Linked DNA regions of Homo sapiens: region 2 is linked to region 1. A link means that fine-mapping ties the variant in region 1 to the expression of a gene that starts in the linked region. Tissue or cell type: whole blood. Region 1 holds a variant in brackets; the other region holds the start of a gene. All regions are shown on one strand. Distances are between the middles of the regions.

What was found. PIP is the estimated chance that this variant, and not a neighbour inherited with it, causes the effect.
Region 2: SMAD5 starts here. The variant in region 1 is fine-mapped to the expression of SMAD5 in whole blood (INTERVAL, PIP above 0.99).

What each region holds. Positions count from the first base shown.
Region 1 is chr5:136,177,756-136,185,946 of GRCh38, reverse strand. SMAD5 (SMAD family member 5) reads right to left here. Exons shown (of 8, transcript NM_005903.7): 8 at 3,214-8,191. Among named protein-coding and RNA genes, the nearest start is that of SMIM32, 11 kb to the left of the region's middle. The variant T/C (reference allele first, on the strand shown) is at 4,716.
Region 2 is chr5:136,127,842-136,136,032 of GRCh38, reverse strand. It overlaps SMAD5 (SMAD family member 5), which reads right to left and starts at 3,188. Exons shown (of 8, transcript NM_005903.7): 1 at 3,071-3,188. SMAD5-AS1 (SMAD5 antisense RNA 1) reads left to right here and starts at 1,143. Exons shown (of 2, transcript NR_026763.1): 1 at 1,143-2,683; 2 at 6,252-6,520. RefSeq lists a silencer at 2,835-3,474 and enhancers at 3,785-3,834, 3,865-3,924.

The DNA of each region.
Region 1 (8,191 bases):
ACTTGGTCTAAACAATTCTAAGTTAATGAAAACCACATTTCACAAAATTTTATGTAAACAAAAGGCAATTAGGGAAAGTTTACTGTTAATTACACTTCTGAACTAATGTTGGCAAAACTATAAAGTGGACAAAATCTAAAAAACCCTCTAGACCCTGTTGTTTCTTCTTCCTGAACTTCTCCCCCTACATCACCCACACACACTCTTCAGCAAAATTAATCTTTTATTCTGAAGCACAAATATGGTTCATGTATTTGTTTTATCATACGTTCTCTCTCTCAAAGGTATTCCTTGCTCCCACTCCCACCTGAGTGCAATGAAAGGCTTGCCCCTTATGTACAACAGTTAGGGAAGGATATTATGGGGTCTAAACCAGGGCACTAAAATCACACTACAAAATTTGTAACACCCCAGCTTCTGTAAGCTGTGTAATTAAAAGTACACTTTTTGGGGTTATTTTCTCTTGTCAAGCGTATCAAGGAAACTATGCCCTTCCTACTTTCTTTGGGAAAATATTAAATGTTAACAGGTTAAAGCTCTAACTTGACTATTAATTTTGCAGGTTCTACAAGCAACAATTCCAAGAATTTGATAACTTTGGAGCAAAAGTCCAAAAGTTCAAAGAGAAAGGATATGAGTGCTTTCTTAGCTGAATTTCCCCTTCTTCTCAATTATACTTTAGCCAGCTCCCACAATACCCCACCCCACATCAAACCACTTCTCAGGCATAAAGAGAGCTAATAAAACATTGAGCTAGAAGCAATTCAACTAAGAAGTAAATATTACATTATTTAAAAGGTAAATTCTAATACTTAAAAAATTCACTTCTTGCTTCAGTACTCTCATTCATTCAACAAATATTGGTATGCTTACTTATAACATATCAAGAACTGTTCTAGCAGTGGCAACACAGGTCTGTCCTCACAGATCTTACATTCCCATGAGGTAAGACAGTCAATAAACAGGGTAAAGAAATATATATGTTGGATGGTGATAAACGCTATGCAGAATGAAAGGCTTTCTTAGGTACAAAGAACTCAAGAAACACTTTAGAACCAAACCAATTTCTCTGAGAACCCTTTCAAAAAGAGCTAGAGCTCCATCTATAATCAGCAAAGTATCTGTCAAAGAAAGCCAAGGATCAATGTACAGTGACTACCAGAACAGGTTAGAAGGGCACACTCATAAACCTTTGCTACTGGTTTGGGGGTTTCAGTTTTAACTTTTCTGTTAAAATTCTCAGCATTTATCTCAAATGAAAGTATTATTTAAAATGAAATAATGAAGGAGGTTTATTAGATGGGAAGGGGTAACTGATTAAGACAAAGTATAAGGATCTTTTCAAAATCCATCTCTAAACATCAATAAACTGCCTCAGAAAATCTCTCACTAGGAATTATACACACACCCATTTGATATAATATGGATAAGTCTTCACCACCAGTCTAAATCCCTCTTCCCACCTCCCATCCAACATACGTTAACATGGAGATGGTTAAGCAAGCTGCCCATAGCTCTTCTTTGAATTTTCCCTATAGCCCCATTACCCTTTTTTTAAACAGAAAAACTGATTTAGATAGAAAGAACAAGTTTTGTTTTTGCAAAGCTTATGATAGACTTACAAACTCAATGACAAAAATCAGTAATATTTAAAATGTTAAATGGGAAGGGTGTTTTAAAAATGCTTCCTTCTTTCAATCATAAATACTACAGAGCTCTAAATAAATCTTCCTTATAAGCATTGCTGCAGTCTACTGACAATCTTAAAAATGTTTATAAAACGATAGCTGCATCAAAACTGCTGTAATACAAAATAGTATTAGCCACTGTCCCAACCCCTCATCACCTGAACTGTTTTGGCTACAGCAACCTGAAAACTAATTATCTTAAACCCAAGAGAAGCCAACATCCTCTTAGTGCTCACTGAACCTTCTTCCGCTAGGACAAGTGTGCTTTTTTAAAAAATACACTTCTAAAACAACCAGTGATGTTGCTACAAAATACCTTACAAAATGCCTTTTAAGTAAAAAGACATAGGAAGGAACTGATTCTCAGAAATTGGTAGGAATGTCCAATCTTTTGGCTTCCCTAGGCCACAGTGAAGTATAATTATCTTGGGCCACACATAAAACACACTAACACTAACGATAGCTGATGAGCTAAAAAAAAGAAAAAAAACTCGCAAAACAATCTCATAATGCTTTAAGAAAATTTACCAATTTGTGTTGGGCCGTATTCAAAGCTGTCCTGGACCACATGCAGCCCATGTGTGCAGGCTGGACAAGCTTGAATAGAGTCTTTTTTATCTATTAAAAAAAAAAAAAAAAAAAAAAAGAACAAGTGCTTTTATCTTTATCCTTTAGGGTTAATATGTAGTTTGGGTTTTTCTACATTTCTGGCAAGGGCACATGATTTTTCACCATTCCTTTTTTTTTTTTTTTTTTTTTTTTGAGACGCAGTATCGCTTGTTGCCCAGGCTGCAGTACAATGGCATGATCTTGGCTCAGTGCAACCTCCACCTCCTGGGTTCGAGCGATTCTCCTGTCTTCAGCCTCCCAAGTAGCTGGGATTACAGGCACGCGCCACCACACCCGGCTAATTTTTGGATTTTTAGTAGAGACGGGGTTTCACCATGTTGGCCAGGCTTCTCTTGAATTCCTGACCTTAGGTGATCCACCTGCCTCAGCCTCCCAAAAAGCTGGGATTACAGGCCTGAGCCACTGTGCCTCGCTCACCATTCCTTTCTAATTAGAATGAGTTTGCATGTCTTGTATATGTAATTCAGAGGTTGGTAAAAGTGTGCAACACAGTGACAATGATGCAAAGTCAGTCTGTGATTTAAAATTTTTTCAAAAAAGAAGACAAAAGGAAATAAAAAATTGTAAATTCACAAAGTGGATCATCAAAGGTTGATACACCGAGGTCAAGCAACATAAGAAGTAATTATTCTGAATCAAAGAACTAGTGGAAATGTAAAAGATAGTAACAATTTTAATATTTGAGTTCTTATGTTCTAAGTACTGTTCTAAATACTGTATTTGTATTACACTTCAATTAATCTTCCCTCAAATCCTTCCTATGAAGTAGACTTTTCCTTTACAGGTCAGGAAAGTGAGGCATAGAGTGGTTAAGCAACTTGTCTAAGCTATGAGGCCCATGACTCAAACGCAGGCAGGCCAACTCCAGAGCCAAAACAAAAAAAGACACATTAAGCAGGTTTTGAGGTTTATTAAAGTAAAGAATTAGCAAACAATATGCAAAAACAAAGTTCTTAAGAGTTATGGCTTTCAAAAGCACAATATAGTAAAACCTAATACATTTTCATAAGTATCAAAATAACAGAATTGAAGCATGTTGCTAGAATTTCAGCTTCTACAACATAAACAGAAGCACAACAAATACAAATAAGCAGCAGACCTACAGTGCAGCCACTAGCTTGGTCTTCATTATCTGTATATGAAATATCTTTTTAAGAAAATGTGGGCAGGTAGATACAAACATTCTATTTCCATGATTACAATCCTCTTCGATTTTAAAATAAGTGAATTTCAAAATACAACTTACGCCAACCATATTTAAAAAAAAAATCACTTGCCTAACCATTATCTTCTAGAGTTCCTATAGTTAAAATACTTTATGAATAAATCAATGCAACATCATCTTCAATGATATTAGAAGGGAAAATCTGACCCTAAAAGATTTTTTTTTTTTTTCCACAAAGAACTTGGGATTCTTTGGCCTTACTGGAGTTTTGTTATAGCTAACACCAGTCTGTATTAATTAAGAAGGCACTATTAATGAGGGACGGAAAAATCTACCTGTACACAAAATTCTGTACTTTAACAGCATCTTCAAATAAACCTTTAAAGGATAATGGTTTACGATCATTTTAAGAATTTTAAGAACTGAGTTATTTGGACAAGAACCATACAAACCTTTTTCACTCTGCCATGAATGATCGAAGAATCCTGCTCTAGGACTGGATCTTTTCAGAGAAAATAACTTATCACCTGTTTTACTGCAGTTGCTACTAGCAATTATTATATAGCATGTGCTCTTCAAAACAGAAATAAAAATTGATGTGTGAAATCCCTTTCATTGGTTTTGGTAAACCATCCAATTTTGGGCTGTCATTTCAATTATAATACAGTTGTATTTTAAGAGAGAAGATAATCCAATATAACAAAGGCTTGATAAATATTGTCACTCTGTAATCAGGACATACTAAACTGTAATTCAGCGAATTCCAAAGAACTTTCCAGGTTTCTGTCCAGCAGGTAGAATTCTTTGTTTATGCAGAAGAAATGCCTTCAATTCTCACATTCGATTCAGGCATCTTGTGTGATAAGAAAAGCTCCTAAGAATCTTACTTATATCAATGAGAAAAATGCTGCTGCTCTGGGAGACCTGAGATTACTCCCCAAAAAGCTGCCCTAATAATATCTGATACCACCTATAAACCACCACTTAGGAAAACTCTCTCCATAAAAATCACCAAACACTTCTAAAACCACCAGGCTACCTACTACCCTAAGATACTTGCTCATCTAGCTGAACAATATAACGATGACACACATTTATATTCATACCCAAGAGATTAGGTGAGGATTTAACTAGTAAGACAAAGAAGGGATCTGACATTCTTTAAAGTTAAAATGTAAGTCCAAAATATAAGTCATCACAAAAGGCTGAACTCAGTAATTATCAAAAAATTC[T/C]TCCTTCCTCATGAAGTAAAAAGGATATTTATATATTTTAAGTGGCAAAGGTGATAATCATCCAAAGTACTATTAAGCAATTGATTAGAAAAAGTATAAAGAAATAGATCTAAATTGGTACATCAGATGTTCTCTATCACAGAAGTACAGCACTTTGATAGGTACTATCAAACTTTTTAGAGTTTCTCTGCTGTTGGAAGAATTTCATTTTTTGTATAAACATTCTCTTCCAACAAAATACTACCACACAGGGGAAGGAACTGTTCCCCACAGGTACCCTCAGGTAATATGGAAGGTTTTTAACATGAACCCCAGTTCTAATCTTGACAACAGATTTCAGGTATGAGTACTTAATAATCACTTCACATCCTGAAGGATATCTTACTCTCAAATGTTATGAAAGGTATAAAATAGCTACATCCTCTATCTGTGCCATTAGATGTGGCTTGTTGAACTGTCTAGTACTCTTACTCTGGATTTCACCTCAGAAACCCAACCAATTCTATTATTTTTTTTATATAGCAACAATACAATGTGAAAAATTATTTATATTCTGACACACATATTTGACATTTTGATTGACGTCTTCCTTAAATCTCCTCTTAAAAAGAGGGTTAGTTTTAGCAGATCAATAACACGCCTACTAGTTTACATTTCACGTCAGCCAGGCAATACTGACCAGACCAATACTGACCAGACCATAAATATTATGTAGAAATGTTAAGCAAATGAATCTCTTATATCTTGCTTTTTGCCAATCAATATCTTTTTGTTGCTTTAATTCATTACTGAGATTTCATTCTATTCTGCTGTTTGCATTACCAAACTGGTTGCAATTTTATTATTCCCAGATTCTGTCTTTTCAGCCAGCATAAATATATTGTACATGCTATGTGATTATTCTAGTGGTGCTAGAATTTTACTATAAAACATTCTGTAGATTAAATTAAAACATATAACCATAATTTGCTAAAATGGTTTCTTTCAGAGGTACTTTCCTTTCACTAGCCAGTTTTTAAAAATCTTACTAGCAAATTTTATCTCCTATACATAGATATATGAAAATCCTTAGGGACTGTAAGAATAGCTGGACTGAATAAAATTTTCATTTAAAGTCCAAGGGTGGGGAGTTGACAACTTTTAGGAGATACAACAGGCTTATAGTTCTCTGTCAAACTCTTAGTTGTTAATAGCTTTAGTACTGTCATTCATGAGACACAACTCCTAAGAGAAAACAAAGAAAAGGCCAATCACGTAAGATCTTGTTAACTCAAGACTGTGACATAATGACCCCAAATAAAAACAATTTTTAATTAACTCACAGTAGAAAACACCAATAAAACAACTCTCTAATTTCCACTAGTTTACTGCAGCCCAATGAAGTTGATTACATACATCAGTCATTCAATTGGAGTAATTTTTTCCTACAAATTTGTTCCAGAGATCATGCCATAAGCCTGGTTAAGTAAAAGAATGATGAAAATGCCAAAGTTCTATCAAGTAAGCAAATATTCTCTTTCGTGTGGCAGACAGAACTCTGGAAGAAACAGAATGCATGTCATGTAATACTTACATTTAAGGCTCAGGTGACTGTCAGAAAGTATTTCTTTTACCCAGCAAAGAACTGTGAGCTGAAACACAAATGGCAGTTCATCTGAAAGAACTAAAACCATCCACTGGCTGCACATTGAAAAAGCAATAAATAATGACACAGAAAACAAAAGAAATTGCATAATTCTTTCCTCGAAAATGCTTTTTTTTTTCTTCACAAGAGCAGAAAGGACAAAGTGGAAAGTCAAACCAAACTAACATTTTAAACAGAAGAATGATATGACTCCATATACTTTCAAAAGGCACCAGAAAATAAAGCTTTCACTGATAGGTAAATTAGGTCATTTTTTTTTTCCAAAATAATTTCTTCATTCTCATGTCATAATTAAGTGTCCATTTGACAGCTCCTGAGAAAAAAACTGGTTCAAAGTTCTTTATCCAAAGCCAAAAACATGATTGATTAAATGGATATTTTGGAGTTCGTTCATGTCTTTTCTCTCTAAAGATTGTGTTTTGGGAGACTAGCTTCCACATAAGTACTTAAAAAATGGAAAAAGAGGATCATCGATAAATGAGAGAAGAGTCTATATTCGTTGATGGGTGAGTGTTTTGTTTTGTTTTGTTTTTTGAGGCAGAGTCTCGCTCTGTCGCCCAGGCTGGAGTGCAGTGGTGCGATCTCGGCTCACCACAACCTCCGCCTCCCAGGTTCAAGTGATTCTTCTGCCTCAGCTTCCCGAGTAGCTGGGACTTCAGGCACGCACCACCATGCCCAGCTAATTTTTGTATTTTTTGTAGAGACAGGGTTTCACCATATTGGCCAGGCTGGTCTCAAACTCCTGACATCATGATCTGCCTGCCTCAGCCTCCCAAAGTGCTGGGATTACAGGTGTGAGCCACTGTGCCCAGCCGAGTGTTTTAAAATCAGCTATCCCTACATCCACTGCTGATTCATTTAGTATCAAATCAGTAGCCTTATCCTTGGGGCCCAACTGAAGAGCCTCCTACGGCTCCAGTGCATAGGTCCTTGCGTAGGGAGGCTGATACAAGTAAGCTGACACTTGTAAGAGCAATGGGATTAACTACATGATTCTCCAGCACTGATAACACCCATAAAACTGTAGGGAATTAAAAAGGCACCTTAAGTTGGAGCTATAGAATAACAGTCTTATAACCTAGGTTGAAAGTAAAACAAAAACCAGAAAAAAGCATAACTTCCTACAAATGTAATCTATAAATTGCAGTGTTTGTTAATACAAAAAAGGTACCAAGGACGTAAGGATAAGCATCTAAGTCCAAGTCACTTGAGTGTATTTTATCAAAGGTTATGCTAAAAACTGTCACCCATAAAAGTGCAAAATAAAAGATTAATGCATGTCAAAAATAGAGTTCTTGCAACATTGTCCAAAAGCAGCAAACATAGTTGAACAAGGCTGTGCATGCACTGTCACTAGCTATAAAGTAATGCTTATGACAGATTTTGAGTAAATGACATATACTTGAGATCAGTTATTTGCAAAAATTTTTTTAAAAAAGGAAATGTCTTACAAAAGATATATAGCATGAAGTCACATTACACTGAAGAACACTTATCTGTATTAAATGTAAATTTTATGTCATCTAGAAAACTATCATTTTGCTTTTACTGAACACTACCAGTTACAGCAGTGCATAGTGTTCATTCAAATAAAACTTTATAGTTTCTTTTAAGCCCCTACCATACACTTTTGCAAAACAATGAATTGTACTTTTTTTTTTTAAGTTGGTGGGACAAAGAAACTGGTAAAAGTACAGCTTCTGGAAGATCGAGAGTAGGAGGGAAAACTTACTCTTCACTGTATATGCCCTCTTATAAGCTACTATAATTTTTCATCATGTGATGCATTTTCAAATAAATTTAATAAAAAATTGTTAGGGCAATAAAGTAA
Region 2 (8,191 bases), 50 kb after region 1:
GGAGACAAGAATCATTCCTCAGGCTACTAGTATCCCTTATAAAAGGGAATCTTACTCAATGTCTTTGACCCTATGAGAAGACGGGCAAATCATAGGCTATAAGCTGCTTGTAACATTTGAAGAAATAAACTATTTGCCTTCTTTGTGGTTAGTGTACAGAGAGACAGAGAGACAGACAGACAGATACAAGGAATATAGATCGTCTAGAAGTAAAAACAGGGAAGACTGATAAACCAAGAGAATAGACACCTATATCCTCAAGCGTACTCAAGTCAGCTCTGAAATTCACCCAGATGTGTGGCTCATTGCCTAGACCAACATATACATCTGGTAATAATAAACACTGATATGTCATAAACAAAAAGAGTTTCTTTAACTCTACAAAGTACTAGTAATATTAAAATTTACATAAAGACAAAGAATATATATGAAATAGATTTTTTTAGATGGTATTTCAACTTAAGTAACTGTATTAAGAAATGAAAAACTGGTATTTTACTGCCTAGTTTTCAAAACACTAAAATCTTTAATTTGACCAAGTTACAAATCTGTTTTCAGTAGAGGGAGAAAACACACTGCCTCCGTTCAATGCAAAGGACAAAAAAGATCATCACTGCAAATCATAATGTTTGGGTTCATGATGAAAACAGGAAACAGACAGGCTGCCCAGGTATAATTATGGTTGTAATCTAATGTGCCTTCAGGTTCAGCCAAGAATTAAAACCCAGTGAAGAGGGTAAGCAGAATTTACTTGCCTCTACTTTGCTGCAGAATGCAACTTTTAATAATACTCCCAGCAACATGTTACATAACCAACAGTAAACAACAATCTGATTCAAACCTCATTAGTAACAACATTCTGCCACTGTCTCCCACTGAAATTAATAGCTGACTTTGCCAGAGGGGAAAGAAATCCAACACATTATCAATCTACCCATTTCTGTGGCGCCTACCACAGTGAACCAGACACGCAGATAATACTACCAGATCTGTACAGAACCTACGAAAATATTTTATTCTTTTTTTCCAGTTTGCTGCTCTCTTCCTCCTTTTAACTAGACCATATCATGTGGATGCCTTTAAAACCTGAGAGTAAAGTCAGTTGAGAAGGTTAATCTAACTTTTCTTGCTTATTTCAGCTATGATCTGAAAGGAATGGAAGCACAAAATGATGAATAAGGTATTTTTAACAAAGATACATGGGTAAATTAACAGCAGTAATGTAAAAAAGACTGAGGGAGCAACAATGTGGAAAGGGAAGGAAAGGAAGCTGTATAGGAACAATCACACAAATAATCATCAAAATTAAACTTTATAAATCTAAACATAGTATCTACAACCTTTATGAAGGTTAAGTTTTGTTAAATTGTCTAAGTTTTGCATTTTTACAATTTTCACTGTAGAGAAAAAAATATTAATAGTTACCAAAGGAATAAAAGACTAAAATAATTTGTTATACATCTGCAAATAGCTCCTTAAATTTGGAACACTAATTTCATAATGATATTTGGATCCATAAATGTGAAACTGTCACACTGAATGTAGGTACTGTTTTCCCCACAATGGATACTACTGCATTGGCATCTAGCAGAAATTGTAAGCTATTTGGAATGTTACTAAACCTACTGGGACTAAGGTTTTCAATCTTTTGTCTTTCAAATTAAAATTAAAAACTAATTCACTCTGGGCAATTCAGGTACTCTAAGGAAATTCAAGTACTCTAGTTTTAAATACGAATTTTCAAAAACGCAACCCAAGTACCCTTTCCTCTCAACTTCTGTGAGGCCAAGCCACGACCTCCACCTATTCAATCTTTGCTGCTAGATAACAACCCTTTTGGTAGTGCTAGGCAACAGGCATGATGTGACAAACCTAGACATCAAAACTTTTCCACAGAAAGATAAGGTAAACAAGATATACTTAGCGCCACACCCATTTAAATGCACAAGCAACCAAAATTGCTCCCTCCCCCCGCAACACCCCCCCCCCCCCCCCAAAGCTCCAGCTGGTCAGGAAACATTGTCTTTACAATCAAGATAAACATCTGGCTCAGGGTGTTCAGCCATTCCTCACCTACAGGCTTGCCTAAGCCCCATTCTCCAATGCCATCACCACCAGAACCGGAACATTCTGTTGGGAAGCCGGCAAACGTCCAAATACCCCAAGTATCCTCGCCCGAGTTCTGCAACCAAAAATCTGTTTTGGCTACTGAGCATGCTCAGACTTAAGACGGGCGCGCCACATGGGAGTTTTCAAAGCTTAGGCTCCAAACTCCACGTAGTAACAGCAGCTGAAAGGAGGAGAGGGGAAAAGGGGAGGGGAAGAGACTGGAATATTAATTTGAGCCCTGATATTGAAGTATAGGACCCGGCCAGCGGCTGAATATGGTGAAGGCAAAAAGACGCTGCTTTGGCATTCTCTTTGCAGCACAGAGAAGTTTACATGAAGTAGAAGAAATCCTTGCAGTGGTGAAAACTGACATGGCAAGTGGCAGAAACCAGGTCTAACTACCAGCTGATTGCAGTAGCCGGTCACAACTGCCCAGAGTGTAATTCCCACCGATAAGCGCGGATCCTTATCTTTGAAACACAAAGCGACGGCGGCACGGATTCATCAAGCCATTGGACAGCTTCGCAGTGCAGCAGCCCAGGCTGCCCGGCCGAGCACCGCAGTCCTATCAAGGGTGTGTATCCAGGGTGGTACATCCGATGAGTTAGGAAAGCAAACCGCTCCCCAGGACAGCGCGGGGTCAGGGGGTCCCCTCCAGGGCGTCCCAGACGCCTCCCTCCAAAGTCTGGGCGGTAACAGCGGGGCTGGGACGAGGGCCAGCCCCGGCCCCGCCTCAGGACGCCCCGGGCAGCCAGCGAGGCCTCCGCAGCCGCTGGGCCGCACCGTGTCCGCCAGCCGGGACCCCGGCAGGCCAGGACTCGGCCTACCTCCCGCCCGACAGGCCCTGGGTCGTTTCCGCTCCGTCCGCGGCCGAACGCCCCCGCCTCGGCCCGAGTCCGCCGGGGCAGAGCCTGCAGCCCCCAGTTCCCCTCGCCCGCGCGCGCCGGGGACCCTCACTCACTCGCGAGCCGGCTAGGCGCGCTCTCCCGACGCCGTCGCTGCGCTTCTCCTCGCTGCAACTTTATTAGCAGCTCGGCCGCGGGACACGCGCACGGCGCCCGCTCGCCCAGGACCCGGATGAGGGAGGGAGGGAGAGGGAGCCCGGGAGGACGCCCGCTGGGGTCGGCGCATGCGCGCCAGAGGCGGAGTGACCGCTGCGGGACCGAGGGAGGGGTGTCTTGCCCGGGCGGCTGAAAGAAGCCTCCGCGCCGGGCTCCGCGCCGGCCAACGCCGACTTCCGATCAGCTGGAGGCCTTCGCGTCGATGGCCAGGCCTGGGAATGGGAATCAGATAGCTCCCACCACCACCACAGTAGGCGCTAGAAGCTTCCACTAACCAAATCAGTATACATTGTAATAAAATTAAGTAATTGTCCTTGACACAGACAACTGGAGGTTTTCTGTCACATACAAAGTGTAAACAAAAACATCTTCAGATACGACTTAGCTACTTTTATTGATCTGTAATACAAATCTGAATGAAGAGTCTTCTTTCTGTGCAAAGTAGCTTCAAAACATGTTTCTGAGCATCTTACAGCTTCTTACTAGATGCAGCACTAAAACCCCTCCCACGGGGCAATCCTGGAACCCTTGAGGGCCTGTGGAAATGGAGCGAGTGCCCACCCTGGAGTTCCAGGAGTGGGACTGCCCATACACTGGATCGCAACCCCAGTTGTTCAAGACACATAGCCTCTCCACCTCCTTGTGGGGAGGGAGATCCCGTGGGGACCCAGCCCCTGGACAGGCGGGGCCACTGAGTTGCAGAGACACCATCCATAGGCTTATATACACCACCCCATCTCCTGGACTCTCTTTTCTAAGTAATTGGAGCTCTTCTCGATGCTTTTTCCTCCAAATTTCCAAAACCGTCAGTATTTCCTAGAATATAATATTGGTACCACATAGGGTACCCGATTTGAATAGTACTAGTAAGAAAAAGCTTTTGAATAATTTTGTTTTTATTTGAAAAGGTCAATACTGGCTCTCCAATGTTCTATTATAGGTTTTCTTTTTAAAATAAGTAAAAATCAAAATCGGGGTCATTTTGGAATGCTCTTTGACACCCTAATCCAATCCATCAGAAATTCTACTGACTCTTTCTTCAAAATTTATCCTAAATCTGACCATTTCTCACACCTCAATTGCCACCTCCATGGCCCGAGCCAGGGTCATCTCATCTGACACACAAATGGCGCAGCCACTATTTTGCTCCAGGCTCTAGAAGTTTATTTCTGTGGAGAAGAAACTAAATAAATGTCCAGAAGTCTCTGCATTAGGGGTGGCCATCTGAAATGGTGACAGAGGGCTAGTAAAGGAGTGAAGGGGAAGTGGGGGAAGAGACCAGAGAGTGAGTGTCTAGTTCCAGAGACCAAAGGGGTCACTGCTATTTCATTCCAGCCAACTGTTACCATAGGGAAATGTGGGAATAAGGACCCAGTGTTGGCAGATATTCTGATTTTTCAAGCAAAGCTGGAAATTTAGATTTTTATGTGAAAATCTCAATTATATCTGTTTAGCAACTTCTTTCTATTTTTCTCTCTCTTTGCCTGTCTCCTGCCCGCCCCCCACCCCGCTCCCTTCCTCTCACTCTGTTAGACATTCTGGAGGCCAACTACATGCAAGCCAAACAAAACAAATCCATGGTCCCGATTTAGCCTACTGGCCACCAGTTTGCAATTTCAGGTCTCCATCTTAAACTTCTTTACTACATCATAAACTTTGAGAAAGTAAAGTCTGTGTACTTTAACTCTTTGTCACACTCACTGATTATTTGTTGTTAATTCAGAAGTTTCCAGCCCTTGGAAGGCAAATATTTCTGGAGCCTGCATGGGTTTACAACTCCCAGAAGTGCATATAATCCTGCCTTGGAGGATACGTTTTTTTTTTTTCCAGAACTGATGTTTGCAGAGTGCTTTGTTGAACATTATAGGACATAACAATTTGGTTTAAATATTTTGTATAGTAGAGATACTCCTCACTTCAAACAGCCAATAAAATCCTTCCCAAAACAAATTATTTGCTGTTTTGCAGTCACTGTACATACGTCAGAAGAATTTGTGATTACAAGATTCCTTTTCATAATCACATATGTAATCTCATAGCCAACAGTTTTGCTTCCTAAGTTATGTGTCCACATACTGATCAAATCAGCCAGCAACTCCAGCCTCTCCAACTTGCTATTTGAGCTCAGTTTAGGTCTAAAGTTGGAAGAGATAACATAGAAGAGAGGAATGGAGATTTTAGTACCACACCAGCAGCCTTCCGAAGGTCTAAGAAATTACCTAGACCTCAAAGACTATGGAAAATCAGAGGGATCACTAAATATCTATACAGTCAAAAACATTATAAAACAGCAAATGAACAGGAATCCCAGAACCATAAGAATGAAGTAAGGAAGTCCCTGTTTTTGGCAATCAAATGGGATCTAAGAACAAATGTAGAACAGGATGATCTGAACAGATAGACATAGTCAGTGGGGCATCAAAATAGACAAACTGCTTTTTTCATTTAGCCATTCACCTGATCAAGAAGACCAGATAAAAGCAACTCCAATACTCAATTTTACTTTACTTGTAGAGAAACCTATTTCTGGACAATTTAGTCCTATAATTCTCAACCAGGGGTGACTGCACCCCCAGGAAACATTTGGCAATGTTTAAAGATGTTCTCGGTTGTCACAACTAGGAGGGCGGTGCTACTAGCATCTAGGCGTTGCAGGTCAGAGACACTGCTGAACATGCTACAATGCACAGAACAGCCTCCTTCTACCAAAAATTAGTCAACCCAAAATATCAGTTGTGCTGTGGTTGAGAAACCCTGATTTAAATCCCAAATAGTTTTTCTTGGGTTGGGTTGATGTTTACAGAAGAAATGATCCTTTCCTTTGAATTTTTTCAATAATCATTTATATTATCAATTTCATGTAGAGAATTAGCCTAAATGTTTAGCCCATGACCTACTCCCTCCTTGAGTTTTTCAGGTCTAAGAAGGAGGCAACTTTCAGGAAAGGTGAGACAATATATGGAAGATGAAGAACTGGAATAATTTAGAAACATTTCTGTATTTTTTAATTTTAAAATGTCTAGTAATTGAGGCAAATTGTTTTTGGTTTGAAAATCATTAATAAATATCTTAATTTTGTAGTTTGCTGTAGCTCAGAAGGCTCTGCCTACATGACTACTGCATACCCTACTGGGAGAATTGGAAGAATGTGATGATGGTAGGAGTCACCCAGCATAGAAGCATGAGTGAATGACATCCCAGAGATCTGCAAAGGATCCTGGTAGCCACTTCAAAGACTTTTTCTCCCTTCCTCAGACAATCATGGCACATGGACATCAGAGGAAGAAATGGCGAAGTTTGTATGACTCCTCCAGCAGAGTCCTTGGAAACAATAAAGCTTCCTTTCCAAATTCTGAGAATTCTGTGTTATTCTTTAATTGGCAGACTGCCCACTGCACCCAATTCTTAATATTGGAAACAGTGCAGAAGCCAGAACTCAACTGAGGAGTTCTGAGATGAGTGAGGTTCCAAGGAAATGATGTGCAGAGGCGCACCCCACAATCCAGTAAGAAAAAGCTCATCATGTTTGTCAGAAGAGATTTCATGTCAGTCTTTAACAGAATGAGCAAACCTTCCATGCTGACCAGAGAATATGCAAAAGTAATTTTATCCAATATTTGAAAGGAGTTTTTTCCAGTAAAATTTTGGTGTTCTGGTGTGAAATGCTTCCCTTATAATCCACAGACCCTTTATTTTCATAGCTCAGAAGTTGAGATCATAATGTATTGAAAAATGAAAAAGTAAAAGAATGACAGCTGCCTCCACTCAAAGCACAGGAATCTGGCAGCCACAGACTCCTTGAAGCTTCAGGGACGGATATCAGAGAATCTGTGACCCCACCCCCGGGAATTAATGTGCACATTTTTGTGTATATACCTACATACAAATTTTCTGCAGAAAAAGCCTATAGCTTTCATCAGATTCTCAAAGGTTTCCTGACCTCCACATGTTTGCAGATGCTTAAGACAGTGGTTACTTTACACGTGGTATAAGTTTAATGTGTCCATTTTAAGGTATCTTTTCTTCTCTTTTTCAGAGCAACATAATTAGGAGACTCCTCTCTAGGGAAGGCAGCTTAATGTAGAGTCTAGAAACCTGGCTTGCCTGTCTCCAGCCATCTGCCACATTAAAGAAGGCCTCCTATGGCTGGAATCCAAGACACAAAATTAAAAGGGTTGCTTGCACCCAGAGTCATAAAACAAAGAGGCTTTCTGAAGCAGGCCTTGGAGCGAACACTCATTTCTTCCTGACTTAAACAGCATCTGTTTCTCCTGATGGCGAACACCCCCCAAGTTAACTTGAATAACCTCCGGGGTTCTACCTTCTCAATTTTCATCCTCAGAGACAGTCTCAGATAAGCCAAACCACATGTGTACCCCACCACAAATCCAGAGCAGCAGGTGAAAATCTGAAAGTGTTATGGAATTGAGGAGAGGGGAAAGAGATGAAAATTTTGTGTTCTCTAGGAAGCTCTTTAACTACATGAAGTCTTAATCATGAGAACTCTGATGCCAGACTTCTTTGTTTGAACACAGACTATCTCACTACCTGTATAACTATGCACAAGTTTCTTAACCCAATCTCTGCCTCAGATTCCTCATCTGTAAAATGGGGATAACTGTAGTATCAGCTTAATAGAATTATGAGGATTACATGCATAGAGACTTGCAAAGTTCTTAGAACAGTTCCTGACACAAAGTAAGTGCTATACAGGTGTTTATTTTAAAAACACATGTATTCTCCTGATATGCCAGCAATTTCTAAGAACGAATTAGCAAATCTGTTTGTCACATAAAGTGTGTATTCATTTTACAGTACAATAGACCCTCTTCTCTTCTTACTCCACTAGGTAATCTCATTCACTCCCAGGCCTCTAGTACCATCTGTTATAGACAATTCCCAAATTTCTGGTCCCATCTTGAACTTGGCTAATGGACGCCAGACCCGTAAGTTCAACTACCCTCTTACCATCTCTACCAGACTGCAGTAGTTTGGATTTTGTCTGCCCCAATACCTTCCAA